Linked DNA regions of Homo sapiens: region 2 is linked to region 1. Evidence: fine-mapped expression QTL. Tissue or cell type: whole blood. Region 1 holds a variant in brackets; the other region holds the start of a gene. All regions are shown on one strand. Distances are from middle to middle.

Region 1 (8,610 bases):
ATGAGCATGTGACCTTTTCCTTTTTCTCTATTAGTATGGTATATTATATTGGTTGATTTCCATATGCTGAACCACCTTTGCATTTCTGGGATAAATCCCACTTGGTTATGGTACAAAATTTTCTTTATCAGAATCAGTTTGCTGGTAGTTTGTTAAGGATATTTGCATCTATGTTCATAAGAGATAATTGGCTTGTAGTTTTATTTTCTGTGATGTCTTTTTCTGGCTTTGGTATCGGGGTATTGGTGGCTTCATAAAATGAGTTAGGAAGTGTCATAATATCTTTTGGAGGGGTTTGAGAAAGATTGGTGCCAATTTTTCTTCAAAGGTTTAATAGGGTTCACCAGTGAACCCATCTGGGCTAGGACTTTATTCGTTGGGAGGTTCTTCATTAGTGATTCAATCTCTTGTTTGTAGATTTGTTGAAATTTTCTATTTCTTCTTGTCACTTTTGTTATTTGTTTAACCTATTGTTTAATTTGTTAACTTTTAACTTCTTAGAGTACAATTGTTCATAATAGTCTCATTTAATTCTTTTTATTTGTATTAGGTCTGTAGCAGTGTCCCACTTTCATTTCTTCTGATTTAGTAATTTGAGTCTTCTCTTTTTTTTCTCTGGGTCATCTAACTAAACGTTTTCAATTTTGTCGATCTTCTCAAGCAATTTTTATTTTATTGATTCTCAATTTAAAAATTTTTTTATTACATTATCTGGACTCTAAATTATTTCCTTCCTTCTGCTAGCTTTGGGTTTAGTTTGGTCTTTTTCTAGTTTCTTTGGGCATATAGTTGGGTCATTGTTTTGGGGGCTTGATTTTATTTGTCTCTAAGTATTTTCTAATTTCCCTTGTGATTTCTTTTTTGACTTTTTGTCTATTTAAAGTTGTTATTTAATCTCCATATGTTTCTCAGTTTTCCAGTTTTCCTTTTATTGATTTCTAGTTTCATTCCATAGTCATTGGAGAGGATATTTTGTGTGATTTCAGTCTTGTAAAATGTATTATTTTGTGGTCTAACATGGTATATCCATGGATATTGTTCCACGTGCATTTGAGAAGAATGTTTCATTCTGTTGTAGGGTGGAGTGTTCTGTATATGTTAAGTCTAAACTATTTCTCCTTTCATTTCTGTCAAATTTTGCCTTGTATATTTTGGGGCTCTTATTAGGTGGGTTTGTGTTTATAATTGTCATGTCTTCTTGATGGATTGAACTTTTTAGTCAGTCTTTAATGTCCTTTGAGTCCTGTAACAATCTTCAACTTAAAGCCTGTTTTGTCTGACATTAGTATAAACACCCAAGCTTACTTTTGATTACTGTTTGTATGAAGTATCTTATTCTGTCATTTTACTTTCCATCTATTTGTGTTTTGATATCTATAGCTTGACCCTAGTAGATAGTGTATGTATGGATTTTAAAAAAATTCATTCTGTCAACCTTTGCCTTTTAATTGGAGCGTGTAATTCATTTACATTTAATTACTGTTAAGGAAGGATTTCTGACATTTTAGTATTTGTTTTCTAAATACTATCTTTCTGTTCCTCATTTCCTTCCTTATTGCCTTTTGTTTAATTGATTTGTATAGTGTACCATTTTGATTCCCTTCTCATTACCTTTTCTGCACATATTTTTTAGTTATATTCTTAGTGGCTATCTTGGGGATTACAATTAATATCTTAAACTTATAACAACCTAGTTTGAATTAATACCCACTCAGCTTTCATAGTATACAAAAATTACACTTCTGTATATCTCATCCTTCTTCCTAAATGTTATTGTGTCAAATTACATTTTATATTTTTTGCTTATTTTACATTTATACATAATGTGCCCAATAACATTGATTTATATTTATTTTACGTGTTTTTCTTTTAAATCATAAAGGAAAAAGAGAATTACCAAAAGTGCAATAATACTACTGGCTTTTATATTTACTTCTGTAATTACCTTTACTGGTGTTTTTATTTCCTCGTATGGCTTTGACTTACTGTCTGGTGTCCCATTAGCATCTCTAGTAGGACAGATCTACTAAAAGTTTCCCTTTCACCCTAGACCCCAGGTCTACCAGACCTTCTGAGAAACAGCCATTCTTGTCTGTCTCCTGGATGATTTTCCAGAGAATATAAGCTTTTAAGAAACTTTTTATTGAGGTATAATATATATGCCAAATATATTTTAAGTACATAATTATGTTCATTGTAAAAAGTCAAACAATGCCAAAATTTATAAGAAATTAAAAGAAAAAGCCCCTACCCCTTCTCTCTCCCCAGGGATAACCACCATTAACAGTTAGGGACCTAAAAACTTTATGGTCTTTCTTGATCTCAGAAACTTCTGATCTTTCTGAATTCCTTTCACCCTTCCTTCTCTCCATCGAATTACTTCTCCTGCTTTGCATATAAGAACCCTAATAGGTAGGTATTATCATCTCCATTGGACACAAGGCAGAGCAAGGAGTTCAAACACAGAAAATGTATAATTCAAGTGTAATGTTCTTTCTGCCATGTTCCTCTGCCTGGGTCCTGCCTGGAATCTTAAAAGTTTAATTGCTCTGTCACATAAGGTAGCAGATACATTGTCCTGTTAAAATATAATTAAGGCCTTATTTTTTAGACAGGAGAAGACCTGGTTCTGTGGGAGTTGTGACAGAATAGCCTTTATTGCCTGAACTGTAGTAAAAAAGATGCCACCTGCTTTAAGAAGGGTACTTTGGATTGGGCTGGTTATTTAGAGCCTGACTTGGTCAGTGGAAGGGGCTAGGACTGGAATAAGACCTGCCCACGAAGTCAGGGTTAGGACCAGCTGGTGAAGGGGGGGGATTATATTACTTACTATCTGATAATCCAATCCAAGGAGATTTATATAATCCAACCAAATGGCAGAATCAGCAAGAGCAACTTCCAGAAGAAATTCCTGACATTCCCCAAACATCCCAGGCTTTCACACACTGTTGTACCTTTGCACACACTCTACTTAGAATGCTTTTTCTGCCTTGTCTGCTCAGAATATTTATTTTTCACAATTACGTTATAATATCACCACCTCTGTAAGGCTACACTGCATGTGTGTGAAATATTTGTTTACTTGCCTGCCTCCCATGTGAGTATGTGTACTCATCTTCACTTTTGAAACATAGTTTTGCTGCAGATAGGATTCTTTGCTTACAGGTTTGGGTTTTTTTCCTGTCTTTCAGCACTTTAAATATGTCATCTCACTGCCTTCTGGAACTCTATGGTTTCAAATGAGAATTTGGCTCTTAATCTTATTGGGGATATTTTGTATGTGTTAATCACTTCTCTCTTGCTGCTTTCAAGATTCTTTGTCTTTGTTTTTGTCAGTTTGACTATACTGTGTCTCAATGTGGATCTCCTAGAATTTGTCCTGATTAAAGATCTTGAGCTTCTTAAAAATGTGTAGATTGAAGTCTTACCTGTATAGATTTCAGTCTTCCATGAAATTTGGGAAGTTTTTGGCTATTATTTCTTCAAACATTCTTTCTGTTCCACTTTCTCCGGTCCCTCTTGGACTCCTATTAAGCATATATTGGTATACTTGATGGTGTCTCATAGTCTCTTGGGCTCTGTTTATTTTTCATTTTTTTTCTTTCTGCTCTTCAGACTGGATAATTTCAACTAACCTGTCTTCAAGTTCGCTGATTCTTTCTCCTGCCTGCTCAAACGTGCTGTTAAACCTCTGTAATGAATTTATTATTTCAGTTATTGTACTTTTCAGCTGCAGAATTTCTATTTCCTTTTTATCATTTCTACTTCTTTATTGATATTCTCTATTTGTTGAGACATTGTTGATTGTGAGTTTTTTGCCAGGTTTTTCTGTGTTTCTAGGGAGGTACAGGCCTGCAGAGCCCCTTGCTCCACCATTTTCGTGGATGTGTTCTGTATTACTAAGTTTGAAGAGTTTTTTCAGAAAATATATTGTGGATCTAACTAAG[T/C]CCTTTATCAGATTATGATTTGCAAATACTTTCTCAGTCTGAGGCTTGTCTTATTCTCTTAACAGTGTCTTTTGATGAGCAGAAGATACTAACTTTAAGTACAGTTTATCTTTTTTTGTCTTGTGCTGTCAGTATTGTATCTAAGAAATCTTACGTAACATAAGGTCACAGAAATTTTCTCCTCTGTGTTTTTTCTAGAAATTTTATAGTTTTACATTTTGTATTTAGAGCTGTAATTCATTTTGAGTTCATTTTTTGTGAGACAAGTATTCTTGTGGGTGCTGTAGTGGGTTTGCTTTTTTTTTTTTGCTATTTTAATGTGCATTTCCTTTATGACCAGTGATGTTCATATTTTCTTTTGCTTGTTGGCTATGTTGTGTTTTTTTTAAATGTCTGGTCAAATCTTTTGTCCATTTTGTTCATTTTATTGTGATGTCTATTTGAGTTGTAAGCATTCTTTATGCATTGTGGATATAAATCCTTTGTCAGGTATATGTTTTGCCAGTGTTTATTCCCAATCTGTGTTTTGCCTTTTTCTTTGCTTAACTATGTTTTTTTGATTAGAAAGTTCTTAATTTTGATGTTTAATTCATCAGTGTTTTTTATGATTCAGTTTCCTAAGAAATCTTTGCCAAACCCCAAGATCATGAAGATTCTTCACTATGTTTTCTTCTAGAAGTTTTTTTTCTTGTGATCCAATTTGAATTAAGTTTTAATATATGAGGTCAATGTTCTTCCCCCCACCCTCCGCCCAAAGCATTCAGTTATTTCAATACTATTTATTGAATAGACTACCATTTGAATACAGTGAATTACCTTGGTATCTTTGTTGAAAAGCAATTGTCTGGGTCTGTTTCTGGCCTTTCCCTTGTGTTCTATTGAGCTATATATCTGACTTTTCCCTTATGATCTATTGAGCTACACATCTGTCTTGATTAACATAGCTCTATAAGAAGTCATGAAATCACATAGTTGGAGACCACTTTTTCTTTTTAAAAATGTTTTTGCTATTACAAGACTTTTGCATTTTTATATAGGTTTTAGAATCAGCATGCCAGTATCTTAAAAAAAAAAAAAACCTGCTGGGGATTTTGGTTGGGATTGTGTTAAATTGACATCTTAACAATATTACGCCCATGAGCATTGTCTATCTCTTCATTTATTTAGGTCTTTCATTTCTCTCAGCAGTGTTTTGTAGCTTTTCAGAGTGTAGTCTTTTTCCACATCTTTTACTAAGTTTTTACCTATTGTGAATAGAATTGTTCTCTAATTTTCTGATTAATTCTTGCTGTTATACAGATTTGCCTTGTTTCATTACAACTTGTTAAAGTCACTTATTCTTATAAATATGTTGGTAGGATTTTCTATGTAGATGATCATATGTGAAAACAGTTTTACTTCATCCTTCACAGTTTTGTCTTCTTTTCCCTTGGAGTACACTGTTGAATCAGAGACTAAGGTGAACGTTTGTAGATTCCCTTCGCTAGGTTGAAAAAATTTATTTTACCCACAGTTTGCTTTACAGTTTTGTTATGATTGGATATTGACATTTGTCAGATGCCCTTTTGTATCTGTTGACATTGTGTCACAGTACAGTGTGGAAATTAATGCACATTTGTAGATGCCCTTTATTAGGTTGAGAAAATTCCCGTCTGTTTCTGGTTTGTCCTACAGTTTTATCATGATTGGTTGTTGAATTTTGTCAAATGCTCTTTCTGCATCTATTGAGATGGTCATACTTTTTTCACCCCTTATTGTATTAACATGGTGTATTACTTTACTTTTCAGATGATATCTAATCTTATATTTCTAAGATAAATCCAGTTAAGATATATTATCCTTTTTTTTTTAATTAAAAGAAAAACTACCAATGATTGACTAAATTTGCCAGGTACTCTTGTGGCGTTTATGTGTTGTTTCTAATTCTTACAATAACCTGTAATTAGCTTCTAGTTTGAGGGATGATAAAATTGAGGCTGAGGTCTCAGGAAAAAACATATAGAACATGAAGGAAAGTCTAAACTTCATACCTTCAATGCCCCTAGTACTCTTTCTACTATACCATGCTACTTTTTGTAATAATTTATGGTTAAAAAACATTGAAGATCATATTGATGTTTTATGTACTTTTTTTTTGGATGGAGGTCTCACTATGTTGCTCAAGGTGGACTCAAATTCCTGGGCTCAAGCAATCCTCCTGCTTCAGCCTTTCAAGTAGCTGGGACTACAGGTGCATAACACTGTGCCTGGCTTTTATGTACATTTTTAAGATATGTTTATTATTTCCTAGAATGTAAATAATTGATTCATGAAAAAAAAATTCTAATAGCTTTTGACCTCTACCATTGAATGTCTTTCTTCTAATTTTATCTTAGCTGTTGCTGTGAACCAAAGTAACTAACAAATCTTTAAGAGTATTTCTTTTTGTCTCCAAATTTGTAGGAGCACATAAAGTGTATTAACTATCTATCCCGAGGTAACATGGGTGTATTAGTCACAGTTCTCCAGAGAAACAGAAACAACAGGATATGTGTGTGTGTGTGTGTGTGTGCGTGTGTGTGTGTCTCTGTGTGTGTAGAGAAGGAGAGGGAAGGATTGATTAATTTATTATAAGGTATTGACTCACATGATTATGTAGTGTGAACAGTCCCATTATCTGTTTGCAAACTGGAGACCCAGGAAAGTCCCGCAGTGTAGTTTGAATGTCTGGAGCCAAACAGCTGATGGTATAGGTTCCAGTCCGGATCTGAAGGCCTGAGAACCAGGAACACCAAGGACAGAAGATTGATGTCCTACCTCAAGCAGTCAGACAGCAAATTTAACCTTTTTCTGCCTTCTGGTTTTATTCAGGCCCTCAGTGGACTAGCTAATGTCTACCCACGCTGGGGATGGCCATCTGCTTTGCTCAGTTCACCAGTAAACTGAGTAAAGTTTACCAATCTTTTCCAGAAACACTCTCACAGACACATCCAAACATAAGTTTAACCAGATATCTGGGCGTCCTGTGGCCTGGTAAAGGTAACACATAAAATTAACCATCACACTGTATTAATCTTGATCTTGAATTTTTTGGGAATGTTTTATATTACTTTTAATTCAATTATTTTTAAACCTTTTTTTATTTTGAAATTATTCTAAAGTTACAGGAAAGTTGCAAGAAAAGTACAAAGAACTACATATGCCCTTACCTAGATTAACCACTCTTTATTATTTTCCACATTCACTTTATCATCCTGCAGTATTGTACATTTGCATGTAACTTCCCTTTTCTGAACCGTTGGAGAGTAGGTTGCATATATCTGGTCCCCCTACCCCTTAATGCTTCAGTATTTCCTAAGAACAGTGATAGTCTACTAAATAACCTAAATATGGATACCAATTTCAGGAAACTTAGCATAAATACAATACTTTCAACTAAATATTGTTTTGGTCAATTGCCTCGGTGATGTCCTTTGGAGCAGTTTTATTCCCCAGTGCAGGATACAGTCCAGGATCCTTCATGCATTTGTAGTAAATAAAATACAGTTCATCTTTTTTTTTTAACTTTTTTTTTTTTTTAGGTTTGGGGGTACATGTGAAGGTTTGTTACATAGGTAAACAACATGTCATGGGGGTTTGTTGCACATATTATTTCATCACCCAGGTATTAAGCCCAATAGCCAATAGTTATCTTTTCTGCTCCTCTCCCTCCTCCCACCCTCCTGCGTCAGGTAGACCCCAGTGTCTCTTGTTTCCTTCTTTGTGTTCATGAGTTCTTATCATTTAGCTCCCACTTACAAGTGAGAACATGCGGTATTTGGTTTTTTGTTCCTGTATTACTGTGCTAAGGATAATAGCCTCCGGCTCCATCCATGTTCCTGCAAAAGACATGATCTTACTCTTTTTTATGGCTGCACAATATTTTATCGTGTATTTGTACCCTATTTTCTTTATCCAGTCTGTCACTGATGGGCATTTAGGCTGATTCCACGTCTTTGCTATTGTGAATAGTGCTGCAGTGAACATTTGTGTGCATGTGTCTTTATGGTAGAATGATTTATAGTCCTCTGGCTATATACCCAGTAATGAGATTGCTGGGTAAAATGGTAGTTCTGCTTTTTGCTCTTTGTGGATTGCCATACTGCTTTCCACAGTGGTTGGACTAATTTACACTACCACCAACAGGGTATAAGTGTTTCCTTTTCTCCACAACCTTACCCGCATCTGTTATTTTTTGACTTTGTGATAATAGCCATTCTGACTGGTGTGAGATGGTATCTCATTGTAGTTTTGATTTGCATTTCTCTAATGATTAGTGATGTTGAGCTTTTTTTCATATGCCTGTTGGTCGCGTATATGTCTTCTTTTGAGAAGTATCTGCTTATGTCCTTTGGCCACTTTTTAATGGGGTTGTTTTTTTCTTGTAAATTAAAGTTCCTTATAAATGCTTTTGATAAAATTCAGCAGCCCTTCATGTTAAAAACTCTCAATAAACTACATATTGAGGGAACATACCTCAAAATAATAAGAGCCATCTATGACAAACCCACAGCCAACATTATACTGAATGGGCAAAAGCTAGAAGCATTCCTCTTGAGAACCGACACAAGACGAGGATACTCTCTCACCACTTCAACATAGTTTTGGGAGTCCTAGCCAGAGCAGTCAGGCAAGAGAAGGAAAT
Region 2 (8,610 bases), 51 kb after region 1:
CTTTATCCACCTTATTTTTATTACAGCTAAAAACCAATACAAACCAATAAAACCTAGTTAAAGCTATTTTCTGGTTTTTAGTTGCAATTAATTTCCCCTAGGGTAGAAATTAAAGCTGATTAAGTCACACACACATACTTTGTTGGGGTGGGGGTGGCAGGTGGAGAGGCAGTGTACTTGGGTTAGCTACAATTAAAAACAGTATTTCAATTCCTCATTTGACTTATTTTATATATAGACAGGGCCTTAGTGATAAGATGGTGTAAATAATTTAGGATATTCATGTTTTAAAGTGAAGCATAAATATTTATTTTGCAAAATGTTTTCTAGTTTGAAGGATGTTCCATTATTACCATTTTTAGATTAATCTGTATGGTCAAGGAATATCAGAGAAACCTGTAGGTTATTTATTTTCTGCAGTGTCATTTTGTCAAATGGTTGGTATTATAATTGTTCTTTTCTTATTAATTTTATAACCAGTGCATAATTCTTACATTAGATTTTAAAAAAGAATTATGCTATAAATCTTTATAAATGTGTACATATATTTCTTAAATATTGCAATTGCCTAAATGTTGTATATTTTAAGGCTGTTTTCTCTTGCTCTTAATGTTGAGGAAAACTATAAATTGATCTATAATGCATCTACTGTTAATGGTTTTGGTTAGTTTGATATTCATTGTTTTTAAACACTTTCCAATATGGAAACTTTAACACCTTTTATACAATTCTCTACTATTCAAGATATTCTTTAAAATATCTCACCAGAAACTTACAATTTTATACTTTGTAATTTTTAGTTTCTGTAATTTGAGGAAGTGACTTTTTTTGTTTGGGTTAAGTAAAAAGCCTTTGATTGATTACCAGCATGAGAATTCACCTTGGTTTCTATTTTATGCATTTGTAAATTTTTCCCCTAATTATATGGAAGCTATTGGAACTTTTGTATTCAGTGCTAAATACTAAGTCAAGGGGAGTATATTAGGTAAGTTTTTTCAGTGACTGTGCCTTTAGCATTCAGTCATTATAAGAAAATGATCAGAACAAAATCATTACATTATAAACATGTAATTCTTTTATATAGTGATTATCATGTACTGCATTGTTACTTTAAAATAAGCTATTAAACTAGTTTTTATGGTTCAAGTAATGCAATACAAAGTTTCATGCTTCAAGTAATGCAATACAAAACATAACCCATTTAATGATGAATTACTTGAATGTATATTATCTGTGGTTTAGGAAAATTTGGATTGTCTTGAAGAGACTCAGTTTTCAAGTTCTGATTTTGACCATTATCTCTTCTAATTCATAAACATATCCCAGTACCTACACTATGCCAGGTATTATGCTAGGTGATCGTTTATATGTCAGCCTATTTCCCCCCCTTTTAAAGACTGCCAGATTAACCAAAAAGCGTGACATTTATAACAATGTTTTATAAATAAATAAATGTGTTTATGCCACTAAAGGTAAACTGCCTATTTAAACTAAGTAATTTTTTGGGATTTAATAAGATTAAGATTCTGACGAAACTGAAAGATACAAGATTCCTTTACTCTCCACATTTGAGAGATCCTATAAGCAAGCAGTTAGTGTCTGACACCCAGGAACCTATAGAAATGAGGGAATCTGTGTTAAAACTATGTATCCTCTAATGTAAAATAGCTTACCAGAATAAATTATTTAAGCCAAAAATCTGGACTCAGATAAATGGCTATAGTAAATTAGGTTAATGAACAATCTGTAGCCATAGATTATTTTCAGTCTTTCTGATTCTAATAAAACAAATACCTTATTCAGTCTCAGCCTTACAAGGGCTATTTGTCTATGGTTGCTGTTCTTCTGTGAGGTGTATTTTTCTATAAATTTATTGCCCACATTCTGTGCACTTGGTCAGGAGTTTTTATCATTTCATATATATGCAGTGTACATCAATTTTAAAATTGTCTTCGTGGTTTTAACATGACTCATAGTCTTGGGAGAGAATCTGTGATGGAACTGAAGTGGCTCAATGATGGATTTGCATTTGAAAGTGGAAGTACCCAAATGAGCAAAATTGGGCTCTCAGACATTTTATATTTCATAGAGACTGTAGAATGCAGTAGAACTTTCCCATAGGGCAGAAATAATTTGTTTAGTTGGAACACACCTAGATCATTGAAGATTCCTTCAAAATATTAGTAATAGTACTGAAGACACACATGTATTCCAGTTAATTTCTTAATGAATGTGCCAATTAGCTATAAAAATGAGATTACATAATTTTTTTTTCTTTTTTGAGACAGAATCTCACTCAGTCACCCAGGCTGGAGTGCAGTGGCGCGATCTCTGCTCACTGCATCCTCCGCCTCCCAGGTTCAAGCAGTTCTTCCTGCCTCAGCCTCCCCAGTAGCTGGGATTAAAGGCGCCCACCACCACACCCGGCTAATTTTGTATTTTTAGTAGAGACCGGGTTTCACCATGTTGGCCAGGCTGGTCTCGAACTACTGACGTCAGGTGATCTGCCCACCTCTACCTCCCAAAGTGCTGGGATTACAGGCGTGAGCCACCGCACCCGGCAGAGATTATGTAATAAGATAACCTGTTTTAAATGTCACAAAAATAAATTTTTATTAATGAAAAAAGCCAGTGTTTCACACTATAAAACAATATATAATCGTTAGGCTAACCATTTCATTTATATAATTGTGAAAGTTAAGCTTTTGAGGTACAGAGTGATTTCATTTCAGAATTTGGTGCAACTTCATAATGAAGCGTCATCAATGAACTCGGGAAATGAGGTGTCATTGTGTATCCATTTTGGTCATACAGTAAAATCTATGGATTAAGTTAGAAATCATCTATCCCATATATTTTGCGGTCACGTGGCTTCAAGTGTACATTAAACCGCCAGCACAAGACCAGCCTGGCCAACATGGTGAATCCCCGTCTCTACAAAAAAAAAAAAAAAAAATTTAGCCGGGCGTGGTGACCCCTGCCTATAGTCCCAACTAGTGGGCAGTCTGAGGTGGAAGGATAGTTTGGGAGGATCGCTTGAGTCCGGGAGGTCGAGACTACAGTGAGCCGAGATTCTGCCACTGCACTCCAGCCTGAGCGACAGACAGTGAGATACTATCTCAAAAACAAAACAACAACAAAAACCAGCACATCAGCCTGGCCTGATGGTGTGCCCCTGTAGTCCCTAGCTACTTGGGAGACTGAAGCAGGAGGATCGTTTGACCGTCAGAATTTGAGGCTGCAGTGATCCCTGATTGCGCGCTCCAGCCTAGGCAACACACCCCACTACTGCTTGACTTCCTTCCCACGGCAAGGTGATTTTGCAATTACTACAAGGAAAGAGGAGAAATGCTAATTTCTCATTTTGTACCTCCCTGGATCCCGTGTCCATGCCGGCAGAACGCCACCATAAAGCTACACCTTTTTTTTTAAAGAGATGCGACTGAGAAATATGCCAGATCAGAGTAATGCTCCAATGCTTTCCGTTTCTCTGGAGAAAGGAGCAAAGGGAAGACTCCTGCTGCACTGAGAAACGAGAGCTAACGTTAAAATGTTGCCTGTGTTTCAGGAGCTTCATTTACTTCAGTCCTGTGGTCCTTATACTCCTAGAGCATTATCACCCTTTAAGTGCTCTGTAAGTCACCAAACCAACAGTTCAGTAATTAGGTTCTTAGCACTACACGCTCCTACCCTAACAGCTCAATTTAATGTTGCTACCATTTGAGAGAGTGTGGCTTGATTCGGTAGGATAAAAACTCTTAGTATTCGCCTAACATTACGGGCCACTGAATTAACCTGCACCGGGTCTCCCAGTTCTACCGAGAGTGGAGGTCTTCCTGGAGGAGGTGGGGTCCGGAACTCAGGCACACCCTTTGGCCCCGCCCTTCCGGGCTTTGCTTCCGGGGCGGTAAGGGCAGCCACGTCATCCCCCCGCTCCGCTCCCCAGCCGGGCAGTGGCTCGTGGGAGCCAAGATGGCGGCGGCGGCGGCAGCGACAGCAGCAGCAGCAGCCAGTATTCGGGAAAGGCAGACAGGTACTGACTTATTCTCTTCTCCTTGAAGCTTCGTGACTGCCCCGACGACATCCTTCTCCTCTGGTGCGTGCAGCTCAGAGACCGATCTCCAGGAGTTTAATCCAGTCCCTAGAACATCAAGAGCCCCTCCCCTTTGAGTTTTTGGGGAGAAGTTGCCATTAGCTTGAGGACTCGGTTCCTCCTGTGGTGCAGGAGAAGGAGCTTCAGCGGTGGGCGGATTGCTACGGCCCTGCTCTTGTCTCCTTCCTAGTGGGCATCAGAAGGCCATCACAACAAGATCTAGCAGCTGATAGCTTCTTATCTATGTTGCCACCTATGAGGTCTCCGAGTTTCTGTGCGTGGTTCAGTTCTCCTGGTTTTGATTTTTAAGAGAACTCCCATTTTCTGACACTCAGAGAATTTAGGTATTTTCACAGCGGCTTGCTTTGCGCCACTTCTCTACTTCGGACCAGTCTTTTGGGGGTACCTGCAGAAAAATGCCTGGTGATAAACATTTTCTCCTTCAGCTTGCTGGAAGGCATTGAAGAATGGCAAAACAAATGAATTAATAGCTTTCTCATTTTAATTGTTTGACACATTGTTTTAAAATAATATTTTATCTTCAATAGAGCATGTTTATATAGCTTCTATTTATGCAGAGAAATGTAAAAAGGCACATATTCTTCTCTTGAGTTTTGGGTTTTTTTCCGTCTTAGAAATTAGTTTTGCCTTACTTGAAAACTTCTCATGACAACTTGGTTTATACCTGTTAGCTACAAACTAAAGGTTTATACTTGTTAACTAGTTGTCTTAAAAGTTTTCAAGCAATTTATTCTGAGGAGCTAATAGAAATAAGGCATCAAGAATGTGCATACTTGGAATTCTGTTTCCTGAAATTATGCTCTGTTGGATATAAATATGAATAGGAAAATAAATTTATAATTCATATGACCTACAGAAGGGATTTGGGCTGTACTTGATTCCTTCCTTTGGCATTTAAAGAAAAAGTGATAGACTTCAATTTAGTAATGACACACAAAAGATACTGAGTTGCGTTCTGCTTTTCCCAGTAAATAATTTAGTATAACCTATCAGGTGAAGTCAGGCATAACTAAATATAGGGAAGTTCAAATAAGATTTGGGGCATACCTGCCATTCGTTGTATATGTTTAAACAAATGGAAGCTCCATTTGTTTTAATACTGTGTTTCTGATGACTATACTACATATTAAAATAACGTGTCAGTAAAACTGTACCAATACAAGAGAGCTTTTTGAAAAATAAATTTGCGTGGCCGTAAACTTGTATGCAGAAATTTTGTAGATCATTAAAATCTAATCGTTTGTATTTCTGCAGAAATAAACATAGTAAGATTTTACAGAATTACTAGGTAGTGCTAGATCTATTTTTTATCAAATTTTTACTGTCATTGAATTCTGCCTTATTTTCAGAGGAAGGTAAATCCTTGTATATATATTATAATGCAGAATTAGCTATTTCCCTCATGCCTATGGAGAATGTTTTGGGAGATAACTCACAGTCCTTAAATATTCTAGATACTAGAATATTTGGGTGGATGAGATAATAGTTGGCATTTATTGAGCATTTACTATTGTTAGGCATTGCATTAGGTGATTATGTATTATCTCCATTTTACAGGTGAGGAAAGTAAGATAGAGGTAAACTAACGTGCCTGTTTCTTGCTTTGCCTGCCTGAAAAATCTTTATTGGTCTCCTGAAAAATCTTTATTGATCTTTTGAAGGTCATCCCACAAGCCATCTCCTTTCTTCCTGGTTCACTGTCCCCTCTATCCATACCTTCAGTTCAATAGGTAGAATCAGTTGCCTCCTGCTCCGTGTTACTGTTGTTCTTCATTGAATGCGTCTTCGTTACAGGTTCTTGCACATCTTCCCAGCTTCTCAACATTGCAGGGTCCCATTAGTGTTCTCATCTAGCGCCTTAGCTTTCAGTATTATCTGTATGTTGATGATTCCCAGGTTTATATCCCTAGTCTGGCCGTCCCATCTGAACTCAGTCTACTCCATATCAGTTAATGGCAGTTCCGTCCTTTTAGTTGTTCAGGTCAAAAACCTTGAAGTTTTCTTGACTTGTCTCTTTCATGTCTCATGTAAGATCTTTCAGTAAATCTTGTCAGTTCTACTCTGAAAATACATCCAGGATCTGACTGTTGTCATTGCTATTCCGAGGTCCTGTCCACCATGAATTTCTGCAGTAACCTATTTGGTCTCTTTGCTTTTACAATCCTGTTCTCCTTCATTATTTTTCACACAGTACCCAAACTGATCATGCCATATGTTTGCTCAAAATCTTCCAGCATCTTCCCATTTCAACCATGATAAAAGCCAAAGTGATCTTACAGTGTTCTACAAGGCTTTATACGATCTGGTTTCCATGTAGCTTTTGGACCTCACTCCCTATTTCTCTTCCCTCTCCTTGAACCCACCAGGAATGCTCCCACCTTCGAGCCTTTGTATTTGTTTCTTCTTTGTGGAGTACTGTTTCAGAGATAATCTCCATGGCTCACTCCCTCACTTCCTTTAGGTCTTTACTCAAATGTTACCTTCTCAGGAGGCTTTCCCCAATTATTCTGTTTAAAATTACACCTCAACTCCATCTTCCCCTTTCCCAATCTTACCTTTCTTCAAAGCACTTACCATGATCTACATACCATATGTTTTACTTTTTTTTTATTTTATTTTTTTTATCCCCCAATTAGAATGAAAGCTACTTGAGGACAGGCGATTTTATTCACTGTTTTGTTCAGTTGCTAGATCCCCAATAACTACAGTGCCTGTGGTGAGCACTCATCAAACGTGTTGAATGAATGAATAGTGTGTATGTAAGTAATGACATTAACCAAGTCTAGGAATATGGATACAGGTTGAGTATCCCTTATCCAAAATGCTTGCGACCAGGAGTGTTTTTGATTTTGGAATATTTGCATTATTACTGGTTGAGCATCCCAAATTTCAAAATCCGAGCACCAGCTTAAAAAATTTTGATTTTGGAGCATTTCAGGTTTCAGATATTAAGACTTGGGATGCTCAACCTGTAGTATATTTAGAGCCAATAAGAAAAATGGTTTGTCATTTCAGATAAAGTCATGGTTTAAGCCTTGGGTAAACTCTGATAAAAGTAAAATTACGTTCTTGTAAACTCTGAACACAGGCCGTGTACTCCATTAACAAATCCTTTTTGTTATAGGTATAGGTATACCTATATAGGTATAGGTATATAGGCATATAGGTATACCTATATAGGTATAGGTATATAGGCATATAGGTATACCTATATAGGTATAGGTATATAGGTATATAGGTATATAGGTATATCAATAGGTATATTGATATAGGTAAAAGGTATATCAAAATACCTTTTAATAAGTTAGCCAAGGCTCAAAGTTGGAGAAAATCTCAGACTGGGCTGAGAAGGCGAATGTAGGATTATCTTATTTGCTGCTGCTGGCCTCTTTCAGTTAGCTAAGGCCTAACTGTGCAGCATACTAAACACCTGAGGCTCACATGGCAGCTCAGGCTTTCGTTCTTCCAAGTTGTCAGGCTTCAAGAGTGTGAACAGCTGTTCCCAGAAACAGGGTTTCCTCCCTCTTGGGCGTGAGTGCCAGGGTGGTGGTGTCTTTATTGCCTGGAGGTGGAGGAAGAGCTCTGCAAATGCACAGTGGGAGAGTTAATCCTGAAACCCCCTCCGTGCTTCCTGTGTTATTTCAGTTTTAAGTGTTAAACTGTTTTTTTGTTTATATTAAATATATTTAATATTATAAATACATTAAATAAAATACATTTTTATTTAATGTAAAACCTGTGGGCCTCTGAAGTAGGTAATATTGGTAATGTGTATTTTTGGCTGGACATTAGGTAATAACATTTTACCAAAAATTATGTCTGTAGGTGTATGGTAAATACACCTGATAGCAATAACTTAAGCGTGCCCTGAGAATGACCCTGTATTGCAGACACACCTGGATATGTGTTTCAAGCTAGGGAATCAAAATGGCCCACCTGGAGATTCATTCCTTGTCTGTGAGGAACATCTGAGCCCCCAGCCCATCCAGTGAAACATAGGCCATGCAGTGGATCAAGGCCCCGAGTTTTGGGTTGAATGAAGGTTGCCAGGTGGAGGTTGTTAGGGAAATGTTAAGTGAAAATGCTGTATAAACCACATTTTTGCTATATAAACCACTTTTTGCATGCAGTTATGGTTCTCCTGCCCAGCGCATTGCCACTGAGTATACAGTTCTCCTGTCCAGCCCACTGTCACTGGACTCTCCTATGTGTGTTGCCCCCATTAAAACCCTGTGTCTCATTTCCTGGCTCCGGGTCTCTTCTTAGGCCTCTCAAACATGGGTATCTTCCCCACTGGAGGCAATAAGGGTTCGGCACAACAGTATGTACACACACATAAGTATGCAAATGTATCACTGAAGTACAATCTGTTCAGTAATAGCAGTTTTAACAGCATTATACCTACCTCAGCAAGCAAGCATTTAATAGAAGTTTTTCTTGTGAGTGAATGAATATGCTGTAAGTTGATATTCAGGTGATTTTAGTATTACATAGTT

The links.
Region 2: it holds the start of SCFD1, and the variant in region 1 is fine-mapped to the expression of SCFD1 in whole blood (INTERVAL, PIP 0.95).

What each region holds. Positions count from the first base shown.
Region 1 is chr14:30,566,934-30,575,543 of GRCh38, forward strand. All of the region lies in intron 1 of G2E3 (G2/M-phase specific E3 ubiquitin protein ligase), which reads left to right. It overlaps G2E3-AS1 (G2E3 antisense RNA 1), which reads right to left. Exons shown (of 4, transcript NR_151720.1): 2 at 6,574-6,701. Among named protein-coding and RNA genes, the nearest start is that of G2E3-AS1, 6.1 kb to the right of the region's middle. The variant T/C (reference allele first, on the strand shown) is at 3,948.
Region 2 is chr14:30,618,367-30,626,976 of GRCh38, forward strand. SCFD1 (sec1 family domain containing 1) reads left to right here and starts at 3,953. Exons shown (of 25, transcript NM_016106.4): 1 at 3,953-4,033. The coding sequence starts at 3,973. G2E3 (G2/M-phase specific E3 ubiquitin protein ligase) reads left to right here. Exons shown (of 15, transcript NM_017769.5): 15 at 1-1,698. RefSeq lists enhancers at 3,287-4,486, 3,556-4,235.